Regions from separate parts of the Homo sapiens genome. Here region 2 is linked to region 1. The links come from fine-mapping of genetic effects on gene expression. A gene starts in region 1. The other region holds a variant in brackets. All regions are shown on one strand. Distances are between the middles of the regions. Region 1 holds the start of TXLNA (taxilin alpha). Region 2 overlaps EIF3I (eukaryotic translation initiation factor 3 subunit I).

Region 1 (10,700 bases):
GACCCTGGTGACTGCCTGGCCTTGATGTTGGCTGCAGCCTTCTGATAGAACCACATGGATTCCACCCACAGCTGGCCAGGCTTGTTACATGGGTCAGGGAATACAAATGGCCCCCCCCCAGGGAGCAGGTGTTGGCCTCAGTTTTCAGGGACCCTTGGTGTTGCTCCTTACCTAGAGCCCATTAATCTACCCCATCAACTCTCTGCCATGAAAGCCATCTTCCAGGAGCCCTGTTTTTTGGAGCTGAACTGCACAGATTATAGCTGCTATTGTACTTAAATAAGGGAGAGGAAAAGAAGGTTCTCAGGCACAGACTTTCTATTTTTCTCAAGCCAAACCAGTTTAAAATGTCTAGCAGAATGAACTGTATTTCCATTTCTTCATGTCTACCTGCCTTCCCCCCACACCCTAAAGTTGTACTTGTTTCTAGCAAACTAGAAGGAAAAGATAGGAAAGCCTGGCACTACTAACCTCACCTCTCATACACCTCTTTGAAGGCCCCAGCTCTTTTGTTCAGGCCTCTCTTCTCCCCTAGACTCACTCAGCTTGGTATCCATCATCTTGAGCATTCTTCAGTAGATTCATCTAGGGTTCAGATTCCAGACTCTCAGCTGAAGACAGGGAGCCAATTTCCCCCAGGTCCCTGCAGGTAATCCAGGGACCCCATAGGGAGAACAGGCTGACTGGGGCATTAGGAATGTTTGTACCTCTCTGCTTCCCTGGCAGCCTGGGGAAGGGTGCAGGGCTCAGTGCGCTAAACCATGGTAAACATCTTCAATAGAACTACCCTAGAATTTAGTGAGTGTGAGACTGAGATATTGCTCAGAATAAATTTATTCCATAGCCATTTAGGATTGCATGTTCTGGACCAACCTTGTCCAGTATGTTTTCTGTTTGAGCTTTTTCATTCTTTTGTTAAGCCAACAAGTTGAGAATTTGGCCCTGCTGGGATCCATGTAGTGGGCACTAGCTGCTCTTTGGCCAAGGCCTTCATAAATGATTCAGTCTCTCATTATCTGTCCTCTAGCCCCACACCCTGATTTAGACCGTGGCAAAGGAAGAACTTGAGGTCAAGACCAACCAAATCTGTGAATTAAAGCTGTTATTTTTTTCTCTGCAAGGGCGCTTTGCTTCAGGTCTGGGCTATGTGCAGAACCTAAGCAGGCTGTGAGAGTTAGAAGAGGCAGTATTACATGTTAGGCCCAGAACACCATGGGAAAAGGTTTATGTAGTGTATCTTAGTGGCCTGCCTAGCTGCCTCTGGGCCAGGCTGACTTCTGATGTCCACATTAGCTCGTACCTGAACCCTGTTGCTGAATGCCAGCCCTGTTCTCCTGTAACTATTATATACGCCATGGCCTGGGGGGCATTGAAGGAAGTAAGCTCTCAGAGATCCTAACACTGGCTGGGAACCTCTGACTCAGAGCATGTCTTTAAAGAGTCCACATCTGGCCAGGCGCGGTGGCACATGCCTGTAATCCCAGCACTTTGGGAGGCCGAGGCGGGTGGATCACGAGGTCAGGAGTTTGAGACCAGCCTGGCAACATAGTGAAACCCCATCTCTAATAAAAATACAAAAAATTAGCTGGGCGTGGTGGCAGGCGCCTGTAATCCCAGCTACTTGGGAGGCTGAGACAGGAGAATCACTTGAACCCAGGAGGCGGAGGTTGCAGTGAGCCAAGATCATGCCACTGCACTCCAGCTTGGGTGACAGTGCGAGACTCCATCTCAAAAAAAAAAAAAAAAAAAAAATCCACATCTTCAGCTGGGCGCGGTGGCTCATGCCTGTAATCCTAGCACTTTGGGAGGCTGAGGCGGGCAGATCACTTGAGGTTAGGGGTTCAAAACCAGCCTGACCAACATAGTAAAACCCCGTCCCTACAAAAATAAAAAAATAAAAAAAATAAGCCAGGTGTGGTGGTGGGCACCTGTGATCTCAGCTACGTGGGAGGCTGAGGCAGGAGAATCTCTTGAACCTAGGAGGCAGAGGTTGCAGTGAGCCAAGATTGTGCCAGCCTGGGCGACAGGGTGAGGCTCTTGTCTCAAAAAAAAAAGTCCACATCTTCATGAACCCTCAGACTCTGGAGTTGGGTGTCGGCTTTTTTAGCCAGCTTTTGTGGGAATTGCCTTTGACCTATTAAAGAAGGAAAGTGGGTAATGGAGTCCCAGCCACTCAAGAGACTGGATATCCCCCGAGAATGGCTTGGGTTACCAGCTATGGACCCTTGGAAGATGAATCTAATCCTTCTCACTGGTTTTTCTTTGCAAATTCATTTGCTTTTATTTTTCTAATAACAATAAACTCTATTTTCCATGTTCTCAGGGCCCCTGGGTAGACAGACACAGCTTGATTTCAGAGCAGACATAGGCGAAGAAAACATGGCATTGAGTGTGCTGAGTCCAGACAAATGTTATTTATATACACATCCAAATTTGAAGAGAAAATGTATTTCTTTAGGTTTCAAACACTGTAATAGATATAAAGCAAAAATAAAAACCTGTTGCAAAGTTCTAAATTGTCTTCTTTGGCTTGGAGTGACCCTAGACTGGATTTGGGGGAAGAGAATGAGGAGGTGTTTAAATTTGTAGCTTAACAGTGGAAATAAGAGTTGTACCAACCTGCACCTGCTCTAAAGTTTTTTTCATCGACTTTATTGAAATATAATTGACATACAATAAACTGTACATATTTAAAGTATATACACGTTGATAAATTGAAACACATATGCACCCATAAAACAACCACAAGATAGTGAATATATCTATGACCTTCATAAGCCGTAAGCTTCCCGCTTGAGAATCCCTCCTTTCTGCCCCACCTCCAGCAACCACTGATCTGTGGCTGTCACTGTAGTTTAGTTTGCATTTTCTAGAGTTTCTCTAAATGATTTTGACTTAGTTTCATCAGCACCACTCTACAGCCCTTTGAACCTTTTTTTTTTTTTTGAAACGGAGTTTTTTATTCTTGGCATCCAGGCTGGAGTACAATGGCGTGATCTCGGTTCACTGCAACCTCTGCCTCCTGGGTTCAAGCGATTCTCCTGCCTCAGCCTCCCAAATAGCTGGGATTACAGGTGCCCGCCACCACGCCCAGCTAATTTTTGTATTTTTAGTAGAGACGGGGTTTCACGTTGGCCAGGCTGGTCTTGAACTCTTGACCTCAGGTGATCCGCCTGCCTCCGCCTCCCAAAGTGCTGGGATTACAGGCATGAGCCATCGTGCCCAGCCTGAACCTCTTAAGATCAAATAGTTCACAGACTCCTCCCTTCAGTTTAGATAATTCCTAAAGCAGAGATTACAGACAAGCAGCCAGAAAGTTGATTGAACCCACAGGAAGGTTTTGCTTGGCAGAGCGTGTTTAAGTTTGAATTAGTTGCCAACATTTTTTTTTTAAATCAAATGTCTGTCTTGAAAAAGACTGTCCTGAAGTCTCCATTTTTAAAAAGAGGCCAAGCACTGTGGCTCATGCCTGTAATCCCAACCCTTTGGGAGGCCAAGGTAGGAGGATCACTTGAGGCCAGGAGTTCAAGACCAGCCTGGGCAGCAAAGTGAGATCTGTCTCTACAAAAAAATTTAAAAGTTAGCTGGCTGTGGTGGCACATACCTGTAATCCTAGCTACTTGGGAGGCTGGGGCAAGGGGATCACTTGAGTCCAGGTGGTCGAGTCTGCAGTGAGCTATTATGATCACTGCACTCCAGCCCCAGCAGCTGAGTAAAACCTGTCTAAAAAACAAAAATACAATCTGGCCCTACCCGGCCTGAGTTTCTGCTTGCTAACAATGTGCAAGAGCTGCTGTATTTTACTGCAATCACCACCTCTCCCTCACTCTGGCAGGTGCTAATATTGTTGCTATATATTGTTTATAGCAAAGGAGAAAGTAACTTGTTAACCTATGTTTCTGTCAATTATTCTTGCCTGTTCTCATTACCCAACTGGCCCCTCTAGGCTATTGTTGACCCTTCTACTACATCCTCTATCCCTCACCCCATGCATACATTTTTATGTTCTTTATCTCACCTAGAACACCCTTGTTATATGGAAATCTATCAAGGCCTGATTTATATGGTGCCTTCTCAAGAGATTTCCAGAATGCTTTTCTAGAAATAATCAGGGCCTTGGTTTCAGGACATCTAGATTCCAACCTTTCTGAGCCTCAGTTCCATCATTATACTAAAAATTGAATATCTCTTATCCAACATGCTTGGGACCAGAAGTGTTTCCAATTTGGGATTTTCTCAAATTTTACCGGTTGAGCTTCCCCAATCTGAAAATCTGAAATCCAACATGCACGGCTCTGAAGTCTTTCACTGAGCCTTTGGGGGAAATATTTAACATCCTAACAGCCCTAAACCAACGCTCAATTAGCACAACAGTTTACAATCTTCTCTACCCACAGCCTGATGCGAGGCTCTGGGACTAGACTATTTAGCCAACAGTTCTTGCAAAATTAACTGACTTATAAGTAAATAGTAATTTCAACACCTCACTGCTAATGCTGTAACAACTCTGCAGACCTAGGGAGCAAGTACGGTTTGCAGAGCACTGGGAAGGCTCTGAAGTGACCTTTGAACTGGGCCTCAAAAAATTTTGGGTTTGGCAAAAGTCAAATCTCTTAGGCTTCAAATTCCAGGCACAAGGATTGTTGGGTTTGATTTCATTATCCAGAAGCAATGGGGATACAGAATTGTGATCTCATGTGTAGGGAACTGTGGGGGTTTTTTCTACTTTAACCCCAGTGAGACTTTGTAGAGTGTGGGGTAGAGAAAAGGCTCATGAATATGCCTGAAGCCTAACTCAGCACCTTTCTGAGGAACTGACTGCCAAAATGGTAATGGAGAGGGGAAAATATGACCTACTTTCACAAGTTACCTTGACTGCCTCAGGGAAACCTGCTGTGGTAGTGTTTCTTCTGGGTGAAAGACCAGGTAATTACCTGGGTGCTGGTCTCAGACTTACCAGTTTTGAATCCCTGTTTTAACCACTCACTATCGATATGACCTTGGATAAGTTACCTAACCTTTCTCTTACTGTCCTTTTCCGTAAAATGGGGATAACAGATAGTAGTTATTTCTATGAGTGGTTATGAGAACCAAGCTATTAGATAGCGGGAAAGCACACAGTAAGCGTTCAAGGAACTGCTATTGTTATTAAAAGCCTCCTTTGGAAGAAGGACATTGAGGCCCAGAGAGAGAACAGAACGTCCAGCCACACAGCAAATCCGTGATGAAGTTGGGACTGGAGTATGGGTCTCCTGAGTCTCAGCCCAGGACTCTATCCCTCTTCCCGAGTCCTCGGAGTTCCCGGATGGAGTCACATTTGTTCACGGCCAGGGAGGAAGGTTTGATGGAGGCCTGCAGGAAACAACAGCCAGGCGCAAGGCTTTGGGAGTTGAAGCATAGCTTCTGCGAGATAGAAACAAGGTTGACATGGGCACTCGTGCAGAATGACGGGCTCCTTTTGGACTCCCAGGACTACAGTCCCTTATGCACCTTGGGATCTGCGGCTAGCCCCTGCGTAAAGAGGGACGCGTAGTCTTTTCCCTGCCCCGCCCTGCCGGGGCGCCCGCCTCCGAGGCCGCCCTCGCTTCGTCCTTCCCAGCAAGCTCCGCGCCGGCGCCGGCTATTGATTGGCTGAGGCGGGAGCAGGCGGCTGGCCGGCAGCAGTTACTCGGGGTTTCCGGTGCGAGGCCAGAGGTGGGGAAGCCATCGGACGTCGGCGGTGAGGTACGTGCAGCGGCGGCCGGTGGGCGAGACTATTTGAGAGTGTGCGGGCCGGGATGTTCTCGGCCTGTGGGGAAATCACGCCAACTCCCCGCGTGGGCCGGGGGCTGTCTGGGGATATGCGCATGCGCGGGCGTGCCTCGCGGCTTGAGGGCGCGCGGGGCGTGGGTGGCTGCGCGCGCGGGGGGCGCACGTGGGGCCTGAGGGGCGGGGGCGGTGCCGGGAGTCCCGCCACGTCAGTCTCCGGCCCTGAGCCAATCCCGCGCCCGGCCTGCCGCGAGGGGGCCGGTTGTGCCGGGAAGTGGCTCCAGGGAGAAGAGGCCTCTTCCCTCACCCGCTGTGGGAGCTGCGCCCCGAAAGCCTGCCCCGGCACGTCGGGCTCTCCTGACCCGCCAAGACCAGAGAGCCGTTGGCGCCCTCCGCCCGGGCCTGCCGGTCCGTTTATTTTAAGAAGCTTTGTGCGCCTGCTGTGGGGATTTCTGATCCAGGCTGCGAAGAATTTCGAAGTCTGGAAAATAGCAACTGTGTTTGTTTCTAAAGGATCTTCTCCTGACCCAGCATCGCTCATCACAATGAAGAACCAAGACAAAAAGAACGGGGCTGCCAAACAATCCAATCCAAAAAGCAGCCCAGGACAACCGGAAGCAGGACCCGAGGGAGCCCAGGAGCGGCCCAGCCAGGCGGCTCCTGCAGTAGAAGCAGAAGGTCCCGGCAGCAGCCAGGCTCCTCGGAAGCCGGAGGGTGTGTGCCAGCTCTGCGTTGCCAGCGGGCAGGGGGAGGAGCTGTGGGGTCGGCCTCGCTTCTGGACTTACAGGCCGAGGCCAGGTTGTCCGGGAGGAGGAGATGTAGAATGAGAGGACAGTGCTGGGGGCCGCGGTCCCCCCTGCGCTCTGGCGAGTTGGCGGAGCTGCCCCCTCTAAGCACAGGAACAGAGTTCTGGAGAGAAGCTCCGACGGGATTAAGTCAGGTGGCAGCCAAACGAGGCACCCAGTCAGGAAATCCAGGTCCCGTTAGAAACACCTCAGCCACCAGCAGCTAACTGCCCTTCCTGTTTGAGGCATTTCTAGAATGATCTGAATGGCAAGAAATGGTTTTGTGGGGGGGAAGGAGATGGACTAGAAGTTGCTCCGTGCCATCCCTGTGTGCTGATGCTTTACATACTTTTATGATCTAACAAATATGTTCGGGTGGTAGTGAGAAATAGTTGTGTCATTTTACAAGTAAACAGACTTAAAGAAGTTAGGCAACGATTACTATAATTTCTTGATTTAAAAGATGTTTCGAATCTAAATTCTGACAGGAACTAGATTTGCTGAATGATACTCCATTCTTGCTTCTCAGTTTCCATAAAAAAAAAAGTTAGGCAACATTTAACTCAAACTGATGAGTTTGGCTGGGCCTGAAAAATCCCAACCAGTGGTATAATCGTCTTCTTTCTCACTCTACCCCTCATCCTCTCCTGCTGTAGGGGCTCAAGCCAGAACGGCTCAGTCTGGGGCCCTTCGTGATGTCTCTGAGGAGCTGAGCCGCCAACTGGAAGACATACTGAGCACATACTGTGTGGACAATAACCAGGGGGGCCCCGGCGAGGATGGGGCACAGGGTGAGCCGGCTGAACCCGAAGATGCAGAGAAGTCCCGGACCTATGTGGCAAGGAATGGGGAGCCTGAACCAACTCCAGTAGTCAATGGAGAGAAGGAACCCTCCAAGGGGGATCCAAACACAGAAGAGATCCGGCAGAGTGACGAGGTCGGAGACCGAGACCATCGAAGGCCACAGGAGAAGAAAAAAGCCAAGGGTTTGGGTGAGCAGAGGGCGGCTCTTTGTGAAGCTGGTGAGGAGAGGGAGTTTGGACTTGACGTTCTCTGGGCCAGTCTGTTCTGCCAGGATTCAAAGGAAAACGGTACTTCTCAGAGCAGCAAGTCACTCTAGTCTAATCAAAGCCAGGGATGTGGGGGCCACGGCATAGAGAGATGCAGGAGTTACCAGCACAAAGCCTTCTGGGTTTTGGAGCAACTGGAGCTTGGCATGGGACCTGTTCTCTCTTTGAGAAAATGGAGACGGGAGGCTAGGGTAGGCTCCTGTGCCAGCCAGTACTACCTGCTGTGTGACCTTGGGTGTGTCCCTTCTCCTCTCTGGGTCTTAGTTTATATTTCTCTTTACAGTAAGAAAATTAGACTAGGCCAGAGTTGAAAACCCAAATATCTGCATAAGCTGGGCTGGCCATGGGGCCACCTGAAGATGGAGGCTTTACTGCTTCCTGATTAGTTGCTCTCAGCTAGCCAACTGAGAGCAGGCAAAACTACAGGCTGGGTGCAGTCAGGCTTTTTTTTTTTTTTTTTTTTTTTAAATAAAGAAAAGCCAGAAATCTAGAGTTATGTGAGAACTCTAGATTTTTTCATAGTTAGCAGCTAAAATGGTAAGAGCCAAACAAAACCCATCCGTGGGTTGGATTTGGCACACATGCCTGCGAATTGCAGTCTCCATGCTGATCTCTTGGGCCCTTCTGGGGAGGCAGAGGGAAGGCTCCCTGACTCAGTCACAGGCAATGGGGAATAGGCAGTGACAGTCATTTTACAGCAGGGTATGTATGTTTAAGAGTCTAGGCCGGGTGTGGTGGCTCACGCCTGTAATTGCAGCACTTTGGGAGGCCGAGGCGGGTGGATCACCTGAGGGTCAGGAGTTCGAGAACAGCCTGGCCAACATGATGAAATCCCGTCTCTACTAAAAATACAAAAATTAGCTGGACATGCTGGCACACGCCTGTAATCCCAGCTACTTGGGAGGCTGAGGCAGGAGAATGGCTTGAACCCGGGAGGCAGAGGTTGCAGTGAACTGAGATTGTGCCACTACATCCAGCCTGGGTGACAAGAGTGAAACTCTGTCTCAAAAAAAAAAAAAAAGAATCTAGAATCTAAGTCGAGTGTCATTATATCCATGTTTTATTCCTATTCCCTTTTCCCCTTATGTATCCTCTTACTTTAAAGAGGAACTTTAAAAAATCTTAGGGACGACTAGGCAGAGTGGCTCACACCTGTAACTCCAGCACTTTGGGAGGCCAAGGCAGGCAGATTATGAGGTCAGGAGTTCGAGACCAGCCTGGCCAACATGGTGAAACCCCAGTTCTACTAAAGATACAAAAAATCAGCCGGGCGTGGTGGCACGTGCCTATAATCCCAGATACTCGGGAGGCTGAGGCAGGAGAATCACTTGAACCCGTGAGGCAGAGTTTTCAGTGAGCTGAGATCATGCCATTGCACTCCAGCCTGGGTGACAGGGTGAGACTCCATCTCAAAAAAAGAAAAAGGAAAAAATCTTAACGTCACATACATGGAAAGTATCATCTTCTTCACCCCCCACCCCCAACTGAGATGGAGTCTTGCTCTGTCACCCAAGCTGGAGTGCACTGGCGCGATCTCAGCTCCCTGCAAGCTCCGCCTCCCGGGTTCACACCATTCTCCTGCCTCAGCCTCCCGAGTAGCTGGGACTACAGGCGCCTGCCACCATGCCCGGCTAATTTTTGTATTTTTTTAGTAGTGACAGGGTTTCACTGTGTTAGCCAGGATAGTCTCGATCTCCTGACCTCATGATCCGCCCACCTGGGCCTCCCAAAGTGCTGGGATTACAGGCGTGGGCCACCGTACCCTGCCTTTTTTTTTTTTTTTTTTTTTTGAGATGGAGCCTCGCTCTGTCCCTAGGTTGGAGTGCAGTGGCGCGATCTCGGCTCACTGCAAGCTCCACCTCCTGGGTTCACGCCATTCTCCTGCCTCAGCCTCCCGAGTAGCTGGGACTACAGGCTCCTGCTACCATGCCCGGCTAATTTTTTTGTATTTTTTTTAGTAGAGACGGGGTTTCACTGTGTTAGCCAGGATGGTTTTGATCTCCTGACCTCGTGATCCGCCCGCCTCAGCCTCCCAAAGTGCTGGGATTACAGGCGTAAGCCACTGTACCCTGCCTTTTTTTTTTAATTAATTAATTTTTTTAGACAGAGTCTCGCTCTGTCACCAAGCTGGAGTGCAGTGGCGCGATCTGGGCTCACTGCAACCTCCGCCTCCTGGGTTCAAGCGATTCTCCTACCTCAGCCTCCGGAGTAACTGGGACTACAGGCGCGTGCCACCACACCAAGCTAATTTTTTTGTGTATGTCTTTAGTAGAGATGGGGTTTCACCATGTTAGGATGGTCTCGATCTCTTGACCTCGTGATCCGCCTGCCTCGGCCTCCCAAAGTGCTGGGATTACAGGCATGAGCCACCTTGCCTGGCCGAAAGTATCTTCATTTTAAAGTTCACTGTTTGGCTACTCTGTTGACAAGAGTTTAGTATTTCTCAAGGAGGCTAAGATACCTATTCCTTTTTGGATCCTACCTCTATCAGGAGGGTGGGCCTTCCTTGCATTGAAACAGTATGAAACAGTAGCCCTGAATTCATAAGTGGGACACCTTTCTTCTATTGGTAGAGCAGGCAGTTTTTTTCTCCTGCCAATGGTGCCTACTAAGGAGATTTCACTAGGGTACAGTCGTTCATTTGATAAGCATTTGTTGAGCATATCCTCTGTGATGGTACTATGGACAGTACTGGGGCTATAGTGAGGGCAGGATTGAGTTGGTCCTTATGGCAAGGAAGGCAGCTAATCAACAAGCAAAATATAAAGTATGATGGGGAGGGCTGTCTTCAGCACTCATGAGTGTGAGCCCAGGCCTGGAGGGGACACCTGGAGAAGAGGGTGCATGTCTTTGCTCCTGTGCTTTTCAGGGAAGGAGATCACGTTGCTGATGCAGACATTGAATACTCTGAGTACCCCAGAGGAGAAGCTGGCTGCTCTGTGCAAGAAGTATGCTGAACTGGTCAGTTCCCCCCTCCGCGGGCACCTTCCCTGCGTTGGGAAAATCAGCATGCCACCTGGTGTAAGGTTGGGGGTGCAGAGTCAAGTAGGTGGCTTAATTCCTGTTCAGCTTTTCTCTGAACTATCTGTTAAATGGG
Region 2 (10,700 bases), 54 kb after region 1:
ACTAGCCAATAGGCATAGGATGTACATTACTGGACAGAGTCAAGGGATATTTAGGGGTGACTGATAGGATAGAGGGGGTGAGGAAAACACAAAGTCCATGCTGTCTCAGCTTTCATTTGGGTGCTTGGGTTTCTGGGGAGCTGAGATTAGTAGGGATTGGGCCCATTCAGTGTCACTCTTCTTCCTTCCCTAGTCTGGAGAGGTGTTGGTGAATGTTAAGGAGCACTCCCGGCAGATCAACGACATCCAGTTATCCAGGGACATGACCATGTTTGTGACCGCGTCCAAGGACAACACAGCCAAGGTGAGCCTGGGCAGCGGTCTGGCAGGGCTGCTCCCTCCCTCCGGCTGCACAGCTCACCCTGCCCGACTTCCCCCAGGAAAGCTCTTTACAGATTTCCCCCCTGCCTTCTCTCTCCAGCTTTTTGACTCCACAACTCTTGAACATCAGAAGACTTTCCGGACAGAACGTCCTGTCAACTCAGCTGCCCTCTCCCCCAACTATGACCATGTAAGAGAACCCCACCTGCCTTCCTGCTGAAGCCTCAGGAAGCTTCCAAGTTCTAGATGCTTGTCCAGAAGTTGGGCTACAACATTGTGGGGGAAATGATGTCAGGCAGAGAGGAGATGCCCAGAGGAGTGACAAAGCTGGAAGGATTGAATAGCCCCAGGGCAGCCAGCAGGAGGTGGCAGAAGTGTCTGATCATCCCCTACCTTTGGTATCCTCCCATTGAGCCGTGTGAGATGTTAAAAATGTATATGGCAGCAGAAAAACACAAAATGGACTTGGTGTCCATTGGTCCCATCTAGAGTTTCTTCTTCCATTCAGGTGGTCCTGGGCGGTGGTCAGGAAGCCATGGATGTAACCACAACCTCCACCAGGATTGGCAAGTTTGAGGCCAGGTAAAGAAGAAGAGAGCTCTTCCAAATTAAAATCTCATGTGGTGTACCTTTTTTGTTTGTTTTTGTTTTTGAGATGGAGTCTCGCTCTGTCGCCTAGGCTGGAGCGCAGTGGCGTGATCTCTGCTCACTGCAAGCTCTGCCTCCCGGGTTGACGCCATTCTCCTGCCTCAGCGGCCCAGGCGCCCACCACCATGCCTGGCTAATTTTCTTTTTGTATTTTTAGTAGAGACGGGGTTTCACCGTGTTAGCAAGGATGGTCTCGATCTCCTGACCTCGTGATACGCCCGCCTCAGCCTCCCAAAGTGCTGGGATTACAGGCATGAGCCACCGTGCCCAGCCTTTTTTTTTTTTTTTTTTTTTGACACGGAGTCTTGCTCTGTCACCCAGGCTGGAGTGCAATGGCGCGATCTCTGCTCACTGCAACCTCTGCTTCCCGGGTTCAAGCAATTATCCTGCCTCTGCCTCCTGGGTGGCTGGGATTACAGGCACCCATGACCACGCCTGGCTAATTTTTGTATTTTTAGTAGAGACAGGATTTCACCATGTTTGCCAGGCTGGTCTTGAACTCCTGGCCTTAAGTAATCCGCCCACCTTGGCCTTCCAGAGTGCTGGGATTACAGGCATGAGCCACTGTGCCCAGCCTTCATTATATTTCTCTATGTCTAAATTTCCTCTACTGTATAATGAGACAATGACAATATACTTAACATAAAATTATGCAGATTAAATTATTCAGTTAATATTTATTAAGCTCTTTAAGCACTGCCCAGCACATAGTAGGCACTCTATAAGTATTAGTTATGTATTCAGGCAGACATCTGGGTCCAGTCTTCCCCATATAATAAAAAAGTTAAAAAAGTAAGAGACAGGGTCTCACTATGTTGCCCAGGCTGGCCTCGAACTCCTGGGCTCAAGCAATCCTCTGTCCTCAGCCTCCCAAAGTGCTGGGATTACAGGCGTGAACCATGGCACGCAGCCACCAATTTCCATCTTATTTTGTTCACATTCACTTCTTATCTCAATTTTTCTGCTTTATTATTATTATTTTTTGAGACAGGGTCTCACTCTGTTGCCCAGGCTGGAGTGCAGTGGCACCATCTCTGCTCACCGCAACCTCCTGGGCTCAAGCGATCCTTCTACCTCAGCTTCTGAGTAGCTGGGATTACAGGTACATGGCCACCGTCCCTGGCTGCTTTTTGTATTTTTAGTAGAGATGTTGGCCAGGCTGGTCTCAAACTCCTGGCCTCAAGTGATCCACCCGCCTCGGCCTCCCAAAGTGTTGGGATTACAGGCGTGAGCCACTGCGCCTCGGCTTCTGCTTTATTTTTTGTGATACAATTTGCATTTGAGGCCAGGTGTGGTGGCTCATGCCTGTAATCCCAGCACATTGGGAGGCTAAGGAAGGCGGCTTGAGGCCAGGAGTTCGTAACCAGCCTGGCCAACATGGTGAAACCCCATCTCTACTAAAAATACAAAAATTAGCCAGGCATCTGTAATCCCAACCACTCAGGAGGCTGAGGCAGGAGAATTGCTTGAACCCAGGAGGGGGAGGTTCCAGTGAACCGAGATTGCGCCACTGTACTCCACCCTGGGTGACAGAGTAAGACTCCATCTCAAAATAAATAAATAATAATAACAATTTGCATTTGGGGAGTGCCACCTCCAAAGTGTTTTGGAAGAAGATAGAAAGTGAATTAATTGTGTCCCTTTTCCTCCAGGTTCTTCCATTTGGCCTTTGAAGAAGAGTTTGGAAGAGTCAAGGGTCACTTTGGACCTATCAACAGTGTTGCCTTCCATCCTGATGGCAAGAGGTAGGGTACCAGTGAAGCAGCTGACCTAAGCCTGGGTTGGGTCTCTGCCTTTCCCAGAGTAAGCACCTGACTGGTGCCTGGCTATCTTTTTCCAGCTACAGCAGCGGCGGCGAAGATGGTTACGTCCGTATCCATTACTTCGACCCACAGTACTTCGAATTTGAGTTTGAGGCTTAAGAAGCTGGATCTCCTGCCGGGCGTGGTGGCTCATGCCTGTAATCCCACCACTTTTTTTTTAAGGCAGGCGGATCACCTGAGGTCAGGAGTTTAAGACCAGCCTGACCAACATGGAGAAACCTCGTCTCTACTAAAAATACAAAAATTAGCCAGGCATGGTGGCACACGCCTATAGTCCCAGCTACTCAGGAGGCTGAGGCAGGAGAATCACTTGAACCCAGGAGGCAGAGGTTGCAGTGAGCTGAGATCACGTCATTGCACTCCATCCTGAGCCACAAGAGCAAAACTCCGTCTCAAAAAAAAAAAAGAAGAAGGTGGATCTCCAACCAGGCCAGAGAAGATTCTCACAGAAGGTTTTGAACTCTAAGAAATAAATTGGTTTGGTAATAAATGGCTTCTGGTCAGATATTTTGTGGTGTCTGTTTCATCATTTTTCCTTTTCACTGACACCCCAGCAAGCTGATGCTGATCATGGAGACTTTTATTATTGAGACCTCCCTATACTTTGGACACTTCAAACTTAAGACCCTCAGTACTTTTGGCTAACCTGGGTTGCAGGCACCCTCATCCAAGGTGTAAAGGTCCTAAGGGGCCTGCAGAGGTTTCAGGAACATCTCAGCTGCTATCCAAGGAGCCAGTGCTTAGAATAGGGGCTCGGCTGAAGCAGTTGGCTGAGAGGCTTCTGTCTTCTCCCTTCCTGTCACTATTTGCCACACTCTTCCCCCATGCAGCTTCTGCAGGCTCAGGTGAGCAGGTCCAGCGCAGAAACAGGCCTGAGGAGGAGGAAGACAGGTCAGGACGCTGAGCAGAGGGGTAATACCCAGGGGAGAAGGTGTGGAGCTCACCTTGCCACAGCCGCAGGCTCTGGGGCTCCACAGATGGCCAAGGGATTGAGGAGGTAGAGTGGGTTCTGGAGTCTTTGTTGCTCTTTTGGCTGGTTGAGCCCAGACCACAGGGAGTGCATCTGAGTCCTCCCTTCACACGGCATCTGCAGAAAGGCAGGGAGTGAGTTTCCAGCCCCAGGTATGCCCTCTGGGAGTCTGGGTGGGCAGCCCTGGTTAGTAGGGTGACAGCCACTTTGGAGCAGTGATAACCTTTACTTTTCTCCTTTTTCTTGCAAACATTATTGCTAGTCAGATCTTGTACTAGGCACTAGAATAAAAGGGGAACAAGACAAAGTCCTACTTCTTAAGGAGTTCTATTTAAAGGGAGAAACCAATTTAGTTTTGCCTCAATGTCAGAGAAGGCTAATTAAGAATGTGATGTTTGAGCTGAGTCTCAACAGACCTAGCATACCCACTGTGCAAAGCAACAGCCAACATGGGGAGAACGGCATGAGCCAAAGAAAGAAGGCGGGAAAGGGCCCACTGTGAATATTGATAGGTCTGGACCCAGGAGCTTTTGAAAGAAAATTGATAACAATGAAGATGCAGAGAACAGTGAGGCGGCTGCCGGAGAGTCCAGATGGAAGAGACCAGTGTGGATGAAGACGGGGGGAGGGCCTTCTGGCAAGGGAGGACCAAACTCAGACAATTTTAGGAGAAAGACTAAAGATGAAGGATGGGGGAGAGGGAGGTAAATAGAGATGATCCAGGACTAGTGGGGTTAGTGAAGCAGGATGGGGTATAGAGGAAGACTGAGCAACAGAAGATAACTAAATCTGATCTTCACCCTGGAAAGGTGAACCCTCCCTCCCCGCATCTCTCAATCTCATAAGACAGCTGGCATCTGGGACTGATAGGCAGCATATGCAACAAGCCAACCAAATAATAAAAATACCACTTCTTTTATTTACTTATTTATTTATTTATTTATTTAATGGAGTCCCACCCTGTTGCCTAGGCTGGAATGCAATGGCATGATCTCGGCTCACTGCAACCTCTGCTTCCCAGGTGCAAGCAATTCTCATGCCTTAGCTTCCCAAGTGGCTGGGATTACAGGCATGTGCCAACACGCCCGGCTAATTATATTTTTTTGAGATGGAGTCTTGCTCTGACACCTAGGCTGGAGTGCAGTGGTGGGATCTTGGCTTACTGCAACCTCTGACTCCCAGGTTCAAGTGATTCTCCTGCCTCAGCCACCTGAGTAGCTGGGACTACAGGCGGGTGCCAACATGCCCGGCTAATTTTTTGTATTTTTAGTAGGCAGGGGGTTTCACCATGTTAGCCAGGGTGGTCTCGATCTCCTGACCTTGTGATCTGCCCACCTCAGCCTCCCAAAGTGCTGGGATTACAGGTGTGAGCCACCGTGCCAGGCCTAATTTTTTGTATTTTTAGTAGAGATGGGGTTTTACCATGTTGGCCAGGCTGGTCTCAAACTCCTGATCTCAGGTGACCTGCCTGCCTCAGCTCCCAAAGTGCTGGGATTACAGGCGTGAGCCACCGCGCCCGGCCAGATTATGGCTGCTCTTATCCCCTTCATGCTACCGA[T/C]GAGATTGAGACTCAGACGGGTTTGCTATGAACACCCAGCAGGTGAGTGGTGAAACTGGAATTTGAGCCCAAATGATTCCACTCTGCTTTCAACCTCTGTTCTATTGCTTTGAAACAATCGACCTTGCAAAGTGGTAGAGAGCCTTATAAATTATTTTTGCAGCAAATTTCCCCTTTAATCCTTGTTTTCAAGGTAGGGGTTCACTTGCAATTGGCTATGGACAGAGTAGGTCTGTCTAAAGGATTGGCCTTGGACCTATTTATCTCTGGGTTTGCAGAAGTTAGGAGGAAGTATGAGATTTGGAGGTGGGGCAAGGAGAACACTCAGTTTTCCTAAAAGACAAACCCACTTGAATTCGGGAAAGATGGCTCCTAAGGAAGTAAGGTGCTGGCTGGGCGGAGTGACTCACGCTTGTAATCCCAGCACTTTAGGAGGCCGAGGTGGGCAGATCACCTGAGGTCAGGAGTTTGAGATCAGACTGGCCAATATGGTGAAACTCCATCTATACTAAAAGTATAAAAATTAGCCGGACGTGGTGGCACATTCCTGTAATCCCAGCTACTCGGGAGGCTGAGGCTGGAGAATAGCTTGAACCAGGGAGGCAAAGGTTGCAGTGAGCCCAGATCGTGCCACTGCGCTCCAGACCAGGCGACAGGTGACAGAGCGAGACTTCATCTCAAAAAAAAAAAAAAAAAGGAAGTAAGGCACTGATGGCACAGGTATCCAACCCTTTCCTGTGCCTGCCCCTAAGCTACCTCAACACCCCCTCAGCTCACCTCTCCTTTTCGCTGTTGCAGAGGAAGGTGCCAAAAGAGGAGGCATAGGCGTGCCCAAACAGCGCCAACAGTAGCCCTTCCCCAAACTCCAATGACAGTGGGAACCGGCAGCCCAGCTGCCACACGCAGTCCAGGAAGAGGAGAAAGGTGGGTGCCTCATGCTTGGGGTGGGCATGGGAGAAGGCTGAATGGGCACAGCGCAGCTGGAAGGGGTGGCTGGCCTGGGGAGGGGGCAGAGCAATGGGCACGAGGAAGCAAGTTTCTGGATGGAGGGTAAGGCTGGGGTTGGGTGGTCACTTACTTTCCTGGATCCACTTCCACTCCACCAGTTCCTGGAATCCAGCCATGGTCTTGCTCAAGGGGTCCAGGATGAGTTGGGCCAGTGAAGTCACAAGCAGGGTGCTGTCTGTGCCTTCAGCCCCATGTACCAGGCCAGGAATAGAATGGACCCAGTTCTAGGCTATATTTGCTTACTGAATCACAGTTTTGCATCCAGGGGTTGAGAGCCCTGCCCATCTCACCCTATTCTCTATGTCAATGGGGCCTTACCTCTCCATGCCCTGGACTGCCAGGCAGGTGGTGCTCAGTGCCTGCTTTACATGTTACAGTCAGCGGCAGCCGTCCAGCCGACTCAGCCAGTTGTCCATGCTTTGCTCCGAGTCCCCACAGGCCTCCACCAGGCGCATGAAGCTCTCCTGCAGGGGACGCCCTCTGGGCGGTGGGAGTCTGGTCATCTTTTCCAGCTCAAGCCCTTGCCAAGTACAGCCAGGGAGCAAGTGCTCAAGACCAATGAGGGAGACACAGAATCCTGTAAAGAGCCCATCTGATAAAAGGGACACAGAGCCCTTTAGGGAGTCCAGTCTCACGGCACACACGACCCACAGAGGAGTTCCTAATCTTTGAGACAGCGTCTCGTTCTGTCCATGAAATGGTTTTTTTTTTTTTTTGAGACGGAATCTTGCTCTGTCTCCAGGCTGGAGTGCAGTGGTGCGATCTCAGCTCACTGCAACCTCCGCCTCCCGGGTTTAAGTGATTCTTCTGCCTCAGCCTCCAGAGTAGCTGGGACTACAGGCGACCGCCACCACACCCAGCTAGTTTTTGCATTGTTAGGTTTCACCATGTTGGCCAGAATGGTCTCGGACTCCTGACCTTGTGATCCGCCCACCTCGGCCTCCCAAAGTGCTGGGATTACAGGCATGAGCCACCGCGCCCAGCCTAAAATGGTTTCTTAGCTTTGAGGATTCCTCAGTCTGATGGGAGAGACTCAAGACCCTTTGAGAAAGTACCTGGGGAAGGGTCACATAGCCCTCTGGGGAAACACACAATGTCCTGGGAAACCACCAATTTGATGGAAGTATCACAACACCCTTGATGTACACCAGTCTGATGGGAGCAACATAGCATTCCCTGGGGAGCCCCGGTCTGACAAGAAAAACACAGTTCTCTTGGAATTCTGCATCTGCTCCTACCTCCCAGAAACTGCTCTGTTCAAGGTTACTGGTGACCTCCTGCCAGAAAATCTAACAGCGACTTCTCAGCTCTGTTTAAAAGCCTTCAGTGGCTGCCCACTGCCTTGAGGATAAAGTCTAAGCTTATCTGTAGCCTCATCTGTCCTCCCATTTCATACTCGACACTCCCACCATACCAAAGGACATTAGTTGACCCCATCCATGGTTTCACTTTCTGAGGTTTCAGTTACCCATGGTCAACTGTGGCCTGAAAATATTAAATGGAAAATTCCAGAAATAAACAATTCATAAGTTTTAAATTGTAAGCCCTTCTGAATGTTGTGACGAAATCTTGAGTCACCCTGCTCTGTCTCGCTGGATAGGAGTCATCCCTTTGTCCAGCATATCCATGCTGCACACACTGTCTGCCCATTAGTCACTTAGTAGCTGTCTTGGTTATCAGAGTGACTGTGGCAGTACTGCAGTGGGCTTGTGTTCAAGGTCAGTAGGAGCCTAAGGCTGCATTACAAGGCCTATGTCATTCACCACATCTCATCACATGGGCATTTAAGCATCTCACATCATCACAAGAAGGGTGAGTATAGTACAATAAGATATTTTAAGAAAGAGATCACATTCATACAACTGTTTATTTTTTTTAGATTGAGTCTCACTCTAGGTCACCCAGGCTGGAGTGCAGTGGCGCAATCTCAGCTCACTGCAACCTCTGCCTCCTGGGTTCAAGCGATTCTCCTGCCTCAGCCTCCTGAGTAGCTGGGACTACAGGAGCCCGTCACCACACCTGGCTAATTTTTTTTGTATTTTTAGTAGAGACAGGGTTTCACCATGTTAGCCAGGATGGTCTCGATCTCCTGACCTCGTGACCCACCTAGCTCGGCCTCCCAAAGTGCTGGGATTACAGGCGTGAGCTACCATGCCCGGCCTCATACAACTTTTTTTTTTTGGAGTTTCACTCTTGTTGCCCAAGCTGGAGTGTAATGGCGTGATCTCGGCTCACTGCAACCTCCACCTCCCAGTTTCAAGCGATTCTCCTGCCTCAGCCTCCCAAATAGCTGGGATTACAGGCCCGCACCACACCTGGCTAATTTTTTGTATTTTTAGTAGAAGTGGGGTTTCACCATGTTAGCCAGGCTAGTCTCGAACTCCTGACCTCAGGTGATCCACCCGCCTTGGTCTCCCAAAGTGCCAGGATTACAGGCATGAGCCACCGCACCCGGCCATTTTTTTTTTGTTTTTTTTTTTGAGACAGGGTCTCATTCTGTCAGCCAGCCTCGAGTGCAGTGGTGTGATTACAGTTCACTGCAGCCTCCACCTCCCGGGGCTCCAGTGATCTCCCACCTCAGCCTCTTGAGTAGCTGGGCCTACAGGAGCACACCACCATGCCTGGCTAATTTTGGGACAGGATCTTGCTCTCACCCAGGCTGGAGTGCAGTGGCACAATTACAGCTCACTGCAACCTCTGCCTCCCAGGCTCAAGCCATCCACCTCAGCCTCTTGAGAAGCTGGGACTACAGGTGTGCACCACCACATGTAGCTAATTTTTTTTTTTTTTTTTTTTTGAGATGGAGTTTCATTCTTGTTGCCTAGGCTGGAGTGCAATGGTGCTATCTCAGCTCACTGCAACCTCTGCCTTTCAGGTTCAAGCGATTCTCCTGCCTCAGTCTCCTGAGTAGCTGGGATTAAAGGCATGTGCCATCACGCCCGGCTAATTTTGTATTTTTAGTAGAGACGGCGTTTCTCCATGTTGGTCAGGCTGGTCTCAAACTCCTGACCTCAGGTGATCTTCCCGCCTCAGCCTCCCAAAATGCTGGGATTACCAGCATGAGCCACCACACCCAGCCAATTTTTGTATTTTGTACAGAGACAGGGTCTCCCTATGTTGCCCAGGCTGGTCTCAAACTCTTGGGCTCAAGGGATCCACCCTCCTCAGCCTGCCAAAGTGCTGAGATGACAGGCATAAGTCACTGTGCCCAGCCACAATCTTCTAAATCTCCAAAAATACCTATCTTTTACCTCAGCACCTGACCTATACAACTTTTATTATAGCATATTATTGTAATTGTTCTACTTTATTATTAGTTATTGTTGTGCTTACTGTATAAATTAAACTTGGCTGGATGCAGTGGCTCACGCTTGTAATCCTAGTACTTTGGGAGACTGAAGCAGGTGGATTGCCCGAGCTCAGGAGTTCAAGACCACCCTGAGTGACATGATGAAACCCCATCTCTGCTAAAATACAAAAAAAAGGCTGGGCGTGGTGGCTCATGCCTGTAATCCCAACACTTTGGGAGGCTGAGATGGGCAGACCACTTGAGGTGAGGAGTTCCAGACTAGCCTGGCCAACATGGCAAAACCCCATCTCTGCTAAAAATACAAAAATTAGCCGGGCCTGGTGGCACGCGCCTGTAGTCCCAGCTACTCAGGAGACTGAGGCGAGAGAATCACTTGAACCCGGGGAATGGAGGTTGCAGTGAGCCAAGATCACACCACTGCACTCCAGACTGGGCAACAAAGAGAGATTCTATCTCAAAAATAATAATAATAAAATAAAATACAAAAAAAAAATTAGCTGGGCATGGTGGCAGGCTCCTGTAGTCCCAACTACTTGGGAGGCTGAGGTATGAGAATTGCTTGCATCTGGGAGGCAGAGGTTGCAGGGAGCTGAGATCGCACCATCACACTCCAGCCTGGGCGACAGAGTGAGACTCTGTCTCAAAAAATAATAAAATAAAATAAAATACAGAAAAGAAAATTAGCCAGGCATGGTGGCACGTGCATGTAGTCCCAGCTACTTGGGAGGCTGAGATGGGAGAGTTACTTGAACCCAGGAAATGGAGGTTGCAGAGAGCCAAGATCACGCTACTGCACTCCAGCCTGGGAAACAAAGCAAGACTCCATCTTAAAAAATAATTATTATGATAAAATAAAATAAGATAAAATACAAAAAAAAAAAAAAAATTAGCTGGGCGTGGTGGCAGGTGCCTGTAATCCCGGCTATTTGGGAAGCTGAGGCAGGAGAATCACTTGAACCTGGGAGGAGGAGGTTGCAGTGAGCCAAGATAGCGCCACTGCACTCCAGCTTGGGTGACAGAGCGAGACTCTTGTCTCAAAAAAATAAAATAAAATAAATAAAA

Evidence for each region. PIP is the estimated chance that this variant, and not a neighbour inherited with it, causes the effect.
Region 2: its variant is the best candidate, but not a certain one, in a credible set for the expression of TXLNA in whole blood (TOPMed, PIP 0.86).

Annotation. Positions count from the first base shown.
Region 1 is chr1:32,174,053-32,184,752 of GRCh38, forward strand. TXLNA (taxilin alpha) reads left to right here and starts at 5,623. Exons shown (of 11, transcript NM_175852.4): 1 at 5,623-5,724; 2 at 6,262-6,462; 3 at 7,190-7,525; 4 at 10,473-10,564. The coding sequence starts at 6,294. It overlaps KPNA6 (karyopherin subunit alpha 6), which reads left to right. Exons shown (of 14, transcript NM_012316.5): 14 at 1-2,511. RefSeq lists enhancers at 4,801-5,560, 5,561-6,319, 6,207-6,286, 6,407-6,566, 6,577-6,626 and silencers at 5,497-5,686, 5,827-6,006.
Region 2 is chr1:32,228,306-32,239,005 of GRCh38, forward strand. It overlaps EIF3I (eukaryotic translation initiation factor 3 subunit I), which reads left to right. Exons shown (of 11, transcript NM_003757.4): 7 at 194-304; 8 at 422-511; 9 at 830-903; 10 at 2,622-2,714; 11 at 2,810-3,299. The coding sequence ends at 2,891. It also overlaps the pseudogene MTMR9LP. Among named protein-coding and RNA genes, the nearest start is that of EIF3I, 11 kb to the left of the region's middle. RefSeq lists an enhancer at 4,464-4,964. The variant T/C (reference allele first, on the strand shown) is at 5,321.